Homo sapiens: one gene and its partners. The protein of the gene in region 1 purifies or fractionates together with the protein of each later gene. This does not show direct contact. Each region holds a gene or a part of one and is shown on either strand. Other genes may lie near its edges. The genes, in order: IL1F10, N4BP1 and KLHL18.

Region 1 (2,843 bases):
AATCACTCCAAGTCCTACTGAATTAGAACCTTCGGCCCAGGAAATAGTAATTATACAGAGTCCCCCAGGTGATGCAGATGGGCAGGCACATTTAGGAGCCAATGACTTTAACTGAACACTTCATTTAAAAAATGTTGAAACTTACTTGATACTACAAAGGAAATTCATGTTCATTATAGGAAAATGTTGATATGTTTAAAAAATTACTCATAAAGCCATAGGTAAGTGGTGCAACAACACGAGTAACATTTCTATGTATGTGTCTCTATGTGTGGATTTAAATAGAATTACAGTGTACACTTGATTTATAATCTGCATTTTTCACCTAATATATTTTGAAAATTTTTATGTCCTAAAACAAGCTTCTATAATATCATCTTTAACAAACACATACATCCTTATTTATTGAATTTTGCTATAATTTCTTAGCCAATTACCTATTACTGAAAATTCAGATTTTTTTCAACTTCTTGCTATTGTAAAAAATTATGCAGTGAACATTTTTGTAAGTAAACATTTGGGCAATCCGTTATTTTTCCTAAGAGTAAGGGAAACACATGCAATCACAAAGTATACAGAATGCTTTAAGACTTTCATTCACAGCACCAACATCCCTCCAGAATTTGCACTTGTTAGTCCCTATTATCCTTCACTCTAAGTCTCAAAGTCATACCCCAAGGCCTGGGGACAGAAAATGACTTGTCCAAAGTGACAGTGACAGACCCAGTACTAAAAGCCACCTTGGCTACAGCCCTGTTTCTGGAACTTGAGAGCTGAGGTGGTTGGAAGCCGTATCCTCAGCACCCACCTGTTCCTTCTCACCTGCCTCCCCAGGGTCCCTCAGCATCTCTCTATTCCTCCCTGAGCCCTATTACTTTCTTCCACCTGCCTTCTTCCTTTCTCTTCTCTCATTTTCTGCTTTCTTATATTTTTTCTTCTCTATTCCCTTCTTATTTGGTGAGAATCAGATCTACTCGGTAAACCTCAGCCCTAGTCATACTTGCGTTACTTTCCTGAGCTAATTTCCAACTCCTGATTAGCTCTGGGTTTATTTCCATGCTAAATTCTGGACTGGCCTTTCCAATGGGTGTTCATTTTAGGGAAGAGCTCTAGGACAGGATAACCCATCGGGAAGGAGCAGAGTCATGTGAGGCTGTGTGGCCTGGCATTTATACAGGGCCACTATCTTCACTGTGCCATTTTCCATCTGGAACAGAATGGGGGAGTTTGGATGGGCTGTTTTCGGCAGTCTTGGCCAAGCACTTCTAGTCACTAGGAATGATGTTTTCCAACTCTCTGGGGAGACCCCACCAGCCTCACTGCTGCTGGAGACCCCTTCTAGTTGTGCTCTCTTCTTTCACTCTGGGCTCTAGTTATCTAACCCTTGGCTAGTTATGGGGGCGGGGGTGTGGTGCCCTGTTGGCCAACAGGGCAGTGGGACTGGGTTTGAGCTGGGCTTATCCTCCAACTGTGAGGGAGGCTACAGCACACTCCACCCCACTCTCAGGGCTGGGAATTGTTGTGGCTCAGCTATTTGGGGGAATCTGTTTTCCAGTTTCTCAGAACCAGCGCAAGCACACACATCCCAGGCTCACACCCCTGGTGGCTGGACTTGCTCCCGGATAGCCTCAGTCAGGGAGAGGCAGAGCTGCCTGGAGCCTGCTGGGCTGGTGGAAGCCTTGGTGGATTCTGGCAGGCCAATTATAGACGAATGGCCTGGGGAACCCGTGCAGCCCTTGGCTGAGTGGTTCTAAGCCCCAGCACGTCTGCCTCTGGCTTCACCCAGCCTCCTTTTCTAACTGCCCTTCTCTCCTCCCCATCAGTGAGGACCAGACACCACTGATTGCAGGAATGTGTTCCCTCCCCATGGCAAGATACTACATGTAAGTTGTCCTGGCATGTCCCTGCTTTCCAAGCCAGGGGGTCAGGGTGGGAAGAGGAAAGGAATGCTGAGTCAGAGGATGAGGCTCCTTCTCACCTTAGAAATTGCAAGTGCCCCATAATTAAGCTTCATCATCACCACAGTAGCAACAGCTCTTTCCTGAACGTCTGCAAGATGCCAGCCAATCTACTGCCTCATCTCTGTTCCAAAAAGTCTGTAAGTGGAGTGTTATTAAACCCATTTTACAGATCTGGAAGCTGAGGCTCAAAGAGGGTAAATAACTTCCCCCATGTCACACAGCTACCAAAAGGCAGAGCCAGGAATCAGACTTCATGTCCTCTGTGCTGCTCCATCCGCCTCTCTGAAATGTCAGAAAGTTTTGAATCTCAATGACAGCATCTTGATGGTGGTCCCTGTGGCCTTTACTCCCAGTGTGGGCTTCTAACACTTACTTACATTTCATCTCATTTGAGATTTGCATCCTTCCTTATCTTTTACTACTTTGTTGTCTGTGATTTTGTCATAAGCTCCTTTCAGGAAGGAGGTGAGGCATAAGAAAAATCAAAGAGGACTCTGGGATGCATTTCCTCTGCCCCTCCCATGGACCCTGTAATGTCCAGGGCTGTGTCCTGGACAAGGTGGGTGGGGAGCAGTCCTGGTCTCAAGGAGGTGACAGCCTGGCTGGGAAGCAAGACACATACATAGGAAGCACATAAATGACAAAGCAGATGTCAGCACTTCAGGGCATCTAATCTGGGTTCTGGTCTCCAAATAGAATGCTGCTGGCATGTGAGTTGTCACATCTGGGTTGTCAAGGTGGCAAGGGGAATGCCAGATAACACGCCCAGGATCTTTCCGGAAGTTTATTTTTATTGTACAAGTGAACCTGCTTTAAATATGTACAGTCATTAGCTAAGGGTATTATCGTTAGCTGTTATTGAGATAGAAAAATCCCCTGGAG
Region 2 (3,656 bases), on another chromosome or scaffold:
GACAATACTCCCTGCATCTTCAGTCCTATCTTCTCTCCATGTCTAATGCTGCATGCCAAAACTGCTCTGTAGAAATACTTCACTTGAAAGTCCTGCCATGATGGGCATATGTGTCCCGAGTTAAACCCAGGCTCTCCTAATTCCAACCTACCCTGCAAATTCCAGTGAAACTAACTTTTAAATGCAGCCCAAGGCCTTTGATTCTGCTCAGGGCCTTCAAAGGCACTGTCCTACACTAATCCTGCCTGGCTTCCAGGACCCCTCCTCGTCTGACTCGTCAGAAAGGATCTGGCCAAGTGACCCTCCCACTACCATGAGACAACCCTCTTGGTTTTGGCCAGGTCTTGCTATCTCACCCCTCCCGGTCTCTGAGCCTTTCCTTATGTTGCTTTCTATATGTGTGATGCTCTTGCACCTTTCCTTGCTCCTTCTTCAAATGCCCTCAGGACTGAATGGGCTGAATTCTGGCCCGTCTTCTTCTATGAAGTTATTTCTAGACACAGGGCCTCTCTCAGCCTCCTTCCTCTTCTGAGTTCCAATCCTGTATGGTGCACGAGAATCACAGAGATAGAATGGCATTATGCCTGTTAGAAAAAGGAGTCACTAGGGAAAGAGCAGCCTGCCTGGGTTGCAGAGCCAGGGGGATGAGCTGGATCATACTCCGGCTTCCTCACGCCTGCCCTTTCCACGACCCCACAGTGGGACTGTCACCCCACCTGCATGTGCGTTCCTTGAGAGCAGGAAGAGGCTGGACACTTCACGAACATCTAATGCTCTGTGAGATTCACAAGAGCTACGCACAGACTCCTCTTTTTAAAGGCTATTTCTTTTTCAGTGAACCATAAATAAGATATTTCAGAGGCTCTTACCCCAGAAAATATATGTAAATAAACACACGCAATCTTGATAATTCAGGAGTGCTTTGTTTATCTAAAGGCATTCAAATATGGCAAGAAGGTAACAAAGTGACATTTTTAACTAGAAAAAAGACTGGGGGTGGTTCTTTAAAGGGGGCCTCTTTTAATCTTCCAAAAACAATAAATCATCCATCACTCTAATTGCTTAACAGCAGGGACATGCCCAGAGTTAACATCAACCACAGCCCTAATTTGAAAATCCACAACAGAACAACCTGCTGGTTCTTAGAAAAACCAAGAAATATGTATATTTAGTCCTCAAAAGGATAACCCTTGAGATAACTGCACTGAAAAGGTTTTTAAGGTGGCTCCCTGATTACTTTGACAGATACAAATGTGTGCTACCTACTCTCCCTCTTTTCCTTAAAGCTTCTAGTGATGGCAAGAGGAGGAACTGGATAGAGGAGGAGTACCCAGTTCAATTCCACTGGGTCACTATGTAACAAGGAAGGAAATGCAGACCGATGAATTCTGCTGCCCTGGACTCCTTACAAGTCTAGAGGGGGAACAGATGGAGGTTCTAGAAACATCAGCTCTCAACTAAATTCCAAAGTGTTATTCTCAGTAATAAGATCATATCACTTTTGATACTCTAAAAAAATCTCAGGAATGGAATTAAAATAGAGGTTCAAAATTCTGGTGGAGAACATACAAATTTACCCAAAAAATAAAACTACAATGACAAAAAATTAAGTGAAGCCAAATTATTGTCCTCAAAATAATACAGAGGGTCGATTAAGGACCCTTCTTCCTACTTCAAGTCCTATACCCTGAGCAGGCAGACATGTGCTTACTCATCACTGTCTCCTAGCCTCTCTGCAATCAAACCAGAGTAGCATGTTGACAGGTAAACCCAGACCAAAGGTCTATTTCGACCCAAAGTATATATATAATAACACCTTGCTACTTATGGGAAGGCCAAAGCTCTGGGGCTCCCAGTTCCAAATGCAGAATGAACAGTTATCAAGTCTGGGAGGCCAGGTGTCCAGGCCCTCAAGACATTTAAATGCCTGCTTCCATATAATTGGTTAAAGGTTATATCATCTGGTTGTTTGCCATATTATAGAATGCTGGCAACTAAAAGAAAGTGTCCAAAGTGGAGGAGAGATGGGTGACACACAGCTGATAAAAACTCATGGCAGCCATAGCACCAGACAGGGCAGTGTGGGGACAATGGAAAGTCCTTTCTGAGTTACCCAGGAAAAAGCGATTTCTTTTTATGGAACCCTAATATGGAAAAGACTAGTATGGAAAAAAAAATGGCTAAAATACTTAATTCTGGCAAGGGAAGGGGCAAACCCCATCTACATGGAAAACTATCACCCCATATGTCAGGGGCTCTCATGCTGAAGTTTCAGGCTGACAGAGCCCAAATGTTTCTTGGCCACTACTGTGCTGTCTAGCCATACACCACAAACAATTTCCACTTACTCATCATTTGACTCATTCATGGTGACAAGGGGGCAAGAACAAGGTATACAAAATTGGCAGCATTAAACAGGGTACTGTGGAGGTTTTCATGGTGGTATGGGCTGCAGACCTCATTCTGGATAGGCAAATGAACAAAGGCTTTACAAAAATACATCGAAGGGTGGGCCTAGGCTGCTTTAGGGTGGGGCTCACACCAACAGATCCTATTGCTTAAGGACCAAATAAGTACTTCCCCAACTACTTGGGTCAAATCAGTGAGCTTTAGTCAGCAGTGCTATGCAACCCAAGACTTAAGTATCCAATGATGCGTTGGCCTGAAAATTCCAACCTTAACTTCTGCTGGAGGAGAGAGGGTATACAGCAGCTCTGGGGAAAGACATTATGGGCCCAAATCTCTATCCATGTAACCCTGGAAAACATTTTTAAGCCACTTCATGTTGTATAAATTATAACTTTTGACTCACAATTGGTGTGAAGGTTGCATTTTTAAAAATACAGTGCCTGACACATAATAATGGGTGATTCGGCTTTAAAATCTCAAATATTTGTTGCATTAAATATATGGCCTCAGTTAAAAATCTAAACTGGCCACTGGAATAGTAACCATGAAGTTACAAATAGGTAGTAAAAAGCCACTAAAAAAATCCTAAACTGGGCATGGTAAGGCATGCCTATAGCCTCAGCTACTAGGAAAGATTGCCTGAGCCCAAAAGTTTGAGTCCAGCCTGGGCAAAATAGTGAGACTTTACCTCTTAAAAAAAGAAAAATTCTAATTTGCCTTTAATTCATCAACAAGTTTTTACTGAGCTCCTACTATGTGTCAGGGACTATGGGTATTAGAGGTAGTTCACTGAACAGAAGAAACACAAATCAGTTTCTTCATGGAATCTAGTCAAAGTTTATTCACACTTAACATTGAAGCAACTGATTTAAAATAAGGGCTGATTTTTTTCCAACTTCCAAAAAAAATTGAGGTAAAATTCACACGACTAAAATAATCAATTCAATGGCATTTACTACGTTCGCAATGCCGTGCAACCACCACTTACATCTAGTTCCAAAATGTTTGTCACTCCAAAATAAAACTCTATACCCATTACGCAGTTTCTTCCTAGAATATGGGTAAATCTTAATTACTGATATTTTCAGATCAATTTACATCAAATTAAGTACAAGTCTGTCTTCTTAAAGTAACACATTCTCTTGTAAAAGTATTGCCTTTAAACAGAGACATCTGTGAATCCAAAGAAAATGTAAATCCTCCCAAAACAATCAGTTTTCCAAAAAAAAAAAAAAAAGAAGAAATAA
Region 3 (3,656 bases), on another chromosome or scaffold:
CAGCAGAATTTTCTTCTTTTTAAAGGCTGAGTAATATTTCACTGTATGTATATACTTTTTTTTTTTTTTTTTTTGAGACAGGGTCTCGCTGTTGCCCAGGCTGAAGTGCAGTGGTATAATCATGGCTCACTGCAGCCTTGACCTCCCGGGGCTCAGGTGATTCTCGCACCTCAGCCTCCCAAGTAGCTGGAACTACAAGTGCATACCACCACGCCTGGCTAATTTTTGTATTTTTTGTAAAGACAAGGTTTTGACATGTGGCCCAGGCTGGTCTCAAACTCCTGGGTTCATGCCATCTGCCTGCCTTGGCCTCCCAAAGTGCTGGGATTATAGGCATCAGCCACTGTGTCCAGCCATATACCATATTTTGTTTATCCATTCACCCAGTGGTAGACCCTTGGGTTGCTTCCACCTTTTGGCTATTGTGAATAATGCTGCTGTGAACATTGGTGTACAAGTATCTATCTGTTCTTGAGCTTATTTTTTGAAAGCTTTTTTTTTTTTGAGATGGAGTTTCACTTTTGTTGCCTAGGCTGGAGTGCAATGGCACGATCTCGGCTCACTGCAACCTCTGCCTCCTGGGTTCAAGCAATTCTCCCGCCTCAGCCTCCCGAGTAGCTGGGACTACAGGCATGCGACACCACGCCTGGCTAATTTTATATTTTTAGTAGAGATGGGGTTTCACCATGTTGGTCAGGCTGGTCTCGAACTCCTGACCTCAGGTGATCCACCCACCCTGGCCTCCCAAAGTGCTGGGATTACAGGCGTGAAAAGCATTTTTGTGTTCTGATCAGCTATTCAGAACACTCTGCCCACATATACCATTATATTGGGTCATATTTGAACTACAGTTCACCTATTTTGCCTGCCAAAAGCCCAAGCTCTGACCTTTACCTTCAAGGCCCTGAACACAGACTGTCTGTTTCACTGGAACGTAAGAGCCATCAGGGTCTCTGGCCTGCCATTCTGCCAGCAGCTAAGCATCCTCAGCTTCAACTGAGACAGAATGGGAGCATGGTGTCTTTAGTTAAGACTTTGGAAACATTCTGCTTCAAGTTCCAGCAGAGCGTGAAGGCTTTACAAATGAGATGCTAAATTTAACAGTAACTTCTATGTTACTTACTCACTTACTAATCAGTATAGTCCCATGATCACCTGTAGTAAGCTGGGAAAATTTTTTTCACTTCCGGTTCATTTGTATTCTTTAACAAGAAATGCTTCAATTCCTAAATACTGTGTTGAAACTACAGAAGTATATGCTAGAGCAATAAATAATAAAAATAAAACCTACTTCAAAAGCCTTAGAGGCCCTATCAGTATATAACAGGTCAGTAAACTATAGGCAACGGATTCAGCTCATGCTTCTTTTGTAAAGTTTCACTGGAACACAGCCACACCCATTCATTTATACATTGTGTATAGCTGCTTTTGCACTATAGCATCAGAGTTAAGTAGCTGCAACTGAAACTATATTACCCACGAATCCTTAAGTATTTACTATCTGGCCCTTTACAGAAAATGCTTGTTAACTCTTAGTTCACGCACCTTGGTTCACCCACTTTTGTCCCCAATTGGAAAAAAGTGGTGATGTAATCAGCTGCTTGGATGTTCTTCCTAAGGTCTTCCTAAGCTAACCACAGGCCAGCTGGCTGGTTCCATGCCAAAGAGGCAATGACAGTGCCAATACTCAACAAGTTCGAAAGTAGAAAGGTAGCTGCCATGCTTGTAATTTGGGAAGGGCTAGGAACACACATTTAGAAAAACAATGTGGTCTCATCTTCCATCAACTAGCCTACAAGCTAAACCAAGTGGGGCTAAGGGGCAAACAATGGAGTCTCATGTACAGAATAATAAAGGAACCGTCTGCAGTTAAGAAACATCCCCAAGCACAGGCTTCTTAAATGTACCTGGCGAGCCAGTCAGCCAGCCAGCAAGCTCCAGAAGCCTTAGGGTGAACATGATGAATGTTGCTTGACTGGTAACGGATAGTCCAGGCTGTACCTCCAACTCTCTTTCCCCACCCACATGTCAGGCAGCATCAAGCTCTCTAATTCACCTAATTGGTGTCCAAATTTAACAGCATTATTCACAACATAACTTGAACAAGGAGATTAAAACTGAATTTTTGATAGGAAATTTGTATAACAAGTGCTGTGCCCCTCAAGGAGCATGTTCTTCCTCTCAGTTCTTATTGCTCATTAGAAAGAGACAAGGCTGGGCCAGGTGTGGTGGTTCATGCCTGTAATCCCAGCACTTGGGGAGGTGGAAGCAGGAGGATCGCTTGAGCCCAGGAGTTTGAGACCAGCCTAGACCACAAGGTGAGGCCCCATCTCTCAAAAAATAAACAAAATTAGCCAGGCGTGGTGGCATACACCTGTGGTCCCAGCTACTTGGGAGGCTGAGGTGGGAGGATGGCTTGAGCCAGGGATTTCGACGCTGCAGTGGGCTGTGATCCACCACTGTACTCCAGCCTGGGCAAGAGATGAGACCCTGTCTCAAGGAAAAAAAAAAAGAGGGAGACAAAGCTAACTACACAGAGAGAGATAAACCTAACTACATGAAAAATGTCAGTAGAAAACCCTGGGAATGAGCAATATTCAGAAGCACAAGTTTTCCAATACAATGTCATTTCAAAATCAGAGTCAAGAATTCATATGTCTAAAAGACTAGTAGAAAAAGCCTGCATCTTCTCTCCTGAAATAAAATGTTGGTGTGGCATCTGGACATTCACATCTTTGCCCTCTGTGCTCAAGAATGACACTAAGGATGCTTTGTTCCCTACTATGCTTCATACCATCAGCAGGGCAGGTGAATAATCTGACAGGATGTAAAAGCATGGCTTCCACCAATAAACAGCTGTGTTAGATCTCAGCTGATACAGCTTTGTGCCATGGGCAAATCCCTTAATAGCTCTAAGCCTCAGGGTTTTTTACATCTGTAAAATGATGGCTTAAAAATGTTTTTATTTGTATAAATTTAGGGGTACAAGGGCAGTTTTGATACATGGATATATTGCATAGTGGTGAAGTCTGGGCTTTTAGTGTAACCATCATCCAAATAATGTACATTGTACCCAGTAATTTCTCATCCCTCATCCCACTCCAGTCTCCATTCATTCCACACTCTATGTCCATGCATTCACATGTAAAATGATAGCTTTGATAGGGAACCTCTACAATTCTCTTTTTTCTTTTTTTGAGACAGAGTCACGCTATTGCCAGGCTGCAGTGCAGTCGTTCAACTATGGCTCACACTGCAGCCTTGACCTCCTGGGCTCAAGCAATCCTCCCACCTCACTTCCCAAAGTGCTGAGATTACAGATGTGAGCCACCGTACCCAGCCTACAGCTCCTTTTAATATGATTATTCTAGCTCTATAATTAACCCTGTGTAACTCACTGTACTATATACACAACATAAAAATGGTATGCATCAACAAGCCCTTACTTCATTTCCTCATATCCTTCTCCACCTACTCTTTCATCACAAAGCCAGTGGTGACAACAAATTAGGCAAGATTCCAGATTCAAATGTGTAGCTCTTGAAGCCAATTTCGTGAAAACTGTGTGCCTACATTTAGTGGGTAACACAAGGAAATATTCTAATACTGTACCTTTCACCCATGGAAAAAACATTTCCTTCTGAGGGCTAAATTAT

What was found.
Region 2: the proteins of IL1F10 (region 1) and N4BP1 purify together in Homo sapiens (affinity purification with mass spectrometry; one large-scale study listed by BioGRID and IntAct). This does not show direct contact.
Region 3: the proteins of IL1F10 (region 1) and KLHL18 purify together in Homo sapiens (affinity purification with mass spectrometry; one large-scale study listed by BioGRID and IntAct). This does not show direct contact.

What each region holds. Positions count from the first base shown.
Region 1 is NC_000002.12:113,070,888-113,073,730, forward strand, and holds part of IL1F10 (interleukin-1 family member 10), read left to right. Parts: intron 1-1,430; exon of another isoform or gene 1,431-1,823; 5' UTR 1,824-1,851; coding exon 1,852-1,883; intron 1,884-2,843. UniProt on the Homo sapiens protein: Cytokine with immunomodulatory activity. Alone, does not induce cytokine production, but reduces IL22 and IL17A production by T-cells in response to heat-killed Candida albicans. Reduces IL36G-induced production of IL8 by peripheral blood mononuclear cells.
Region 2 is NC_000016.10:48,554,664-48,558,319, forward strand, and holds part of N4BP1 (NEDD4-binding protein 1), read right to left. Parts: intron 1-3,656. UniProt on the Homo sapiens protein: Potent suppressor of cytokine production that acts as a regulator of innate immune signaling and inflammation.
Region 3 is NC_000003.12:47,289,323-47,292,978, reverse strand, and holds part of KLHL18 (kelch-like protein 18), read right to left. Parts: intron 1-3,656. UniProt on the Homo sapiens protein: Substrate-specific adapter of a BCR (BTB-CUL3-RBX1) E3 ubiquitin-protein ligase complex required for mitotic progression and cytokinesis.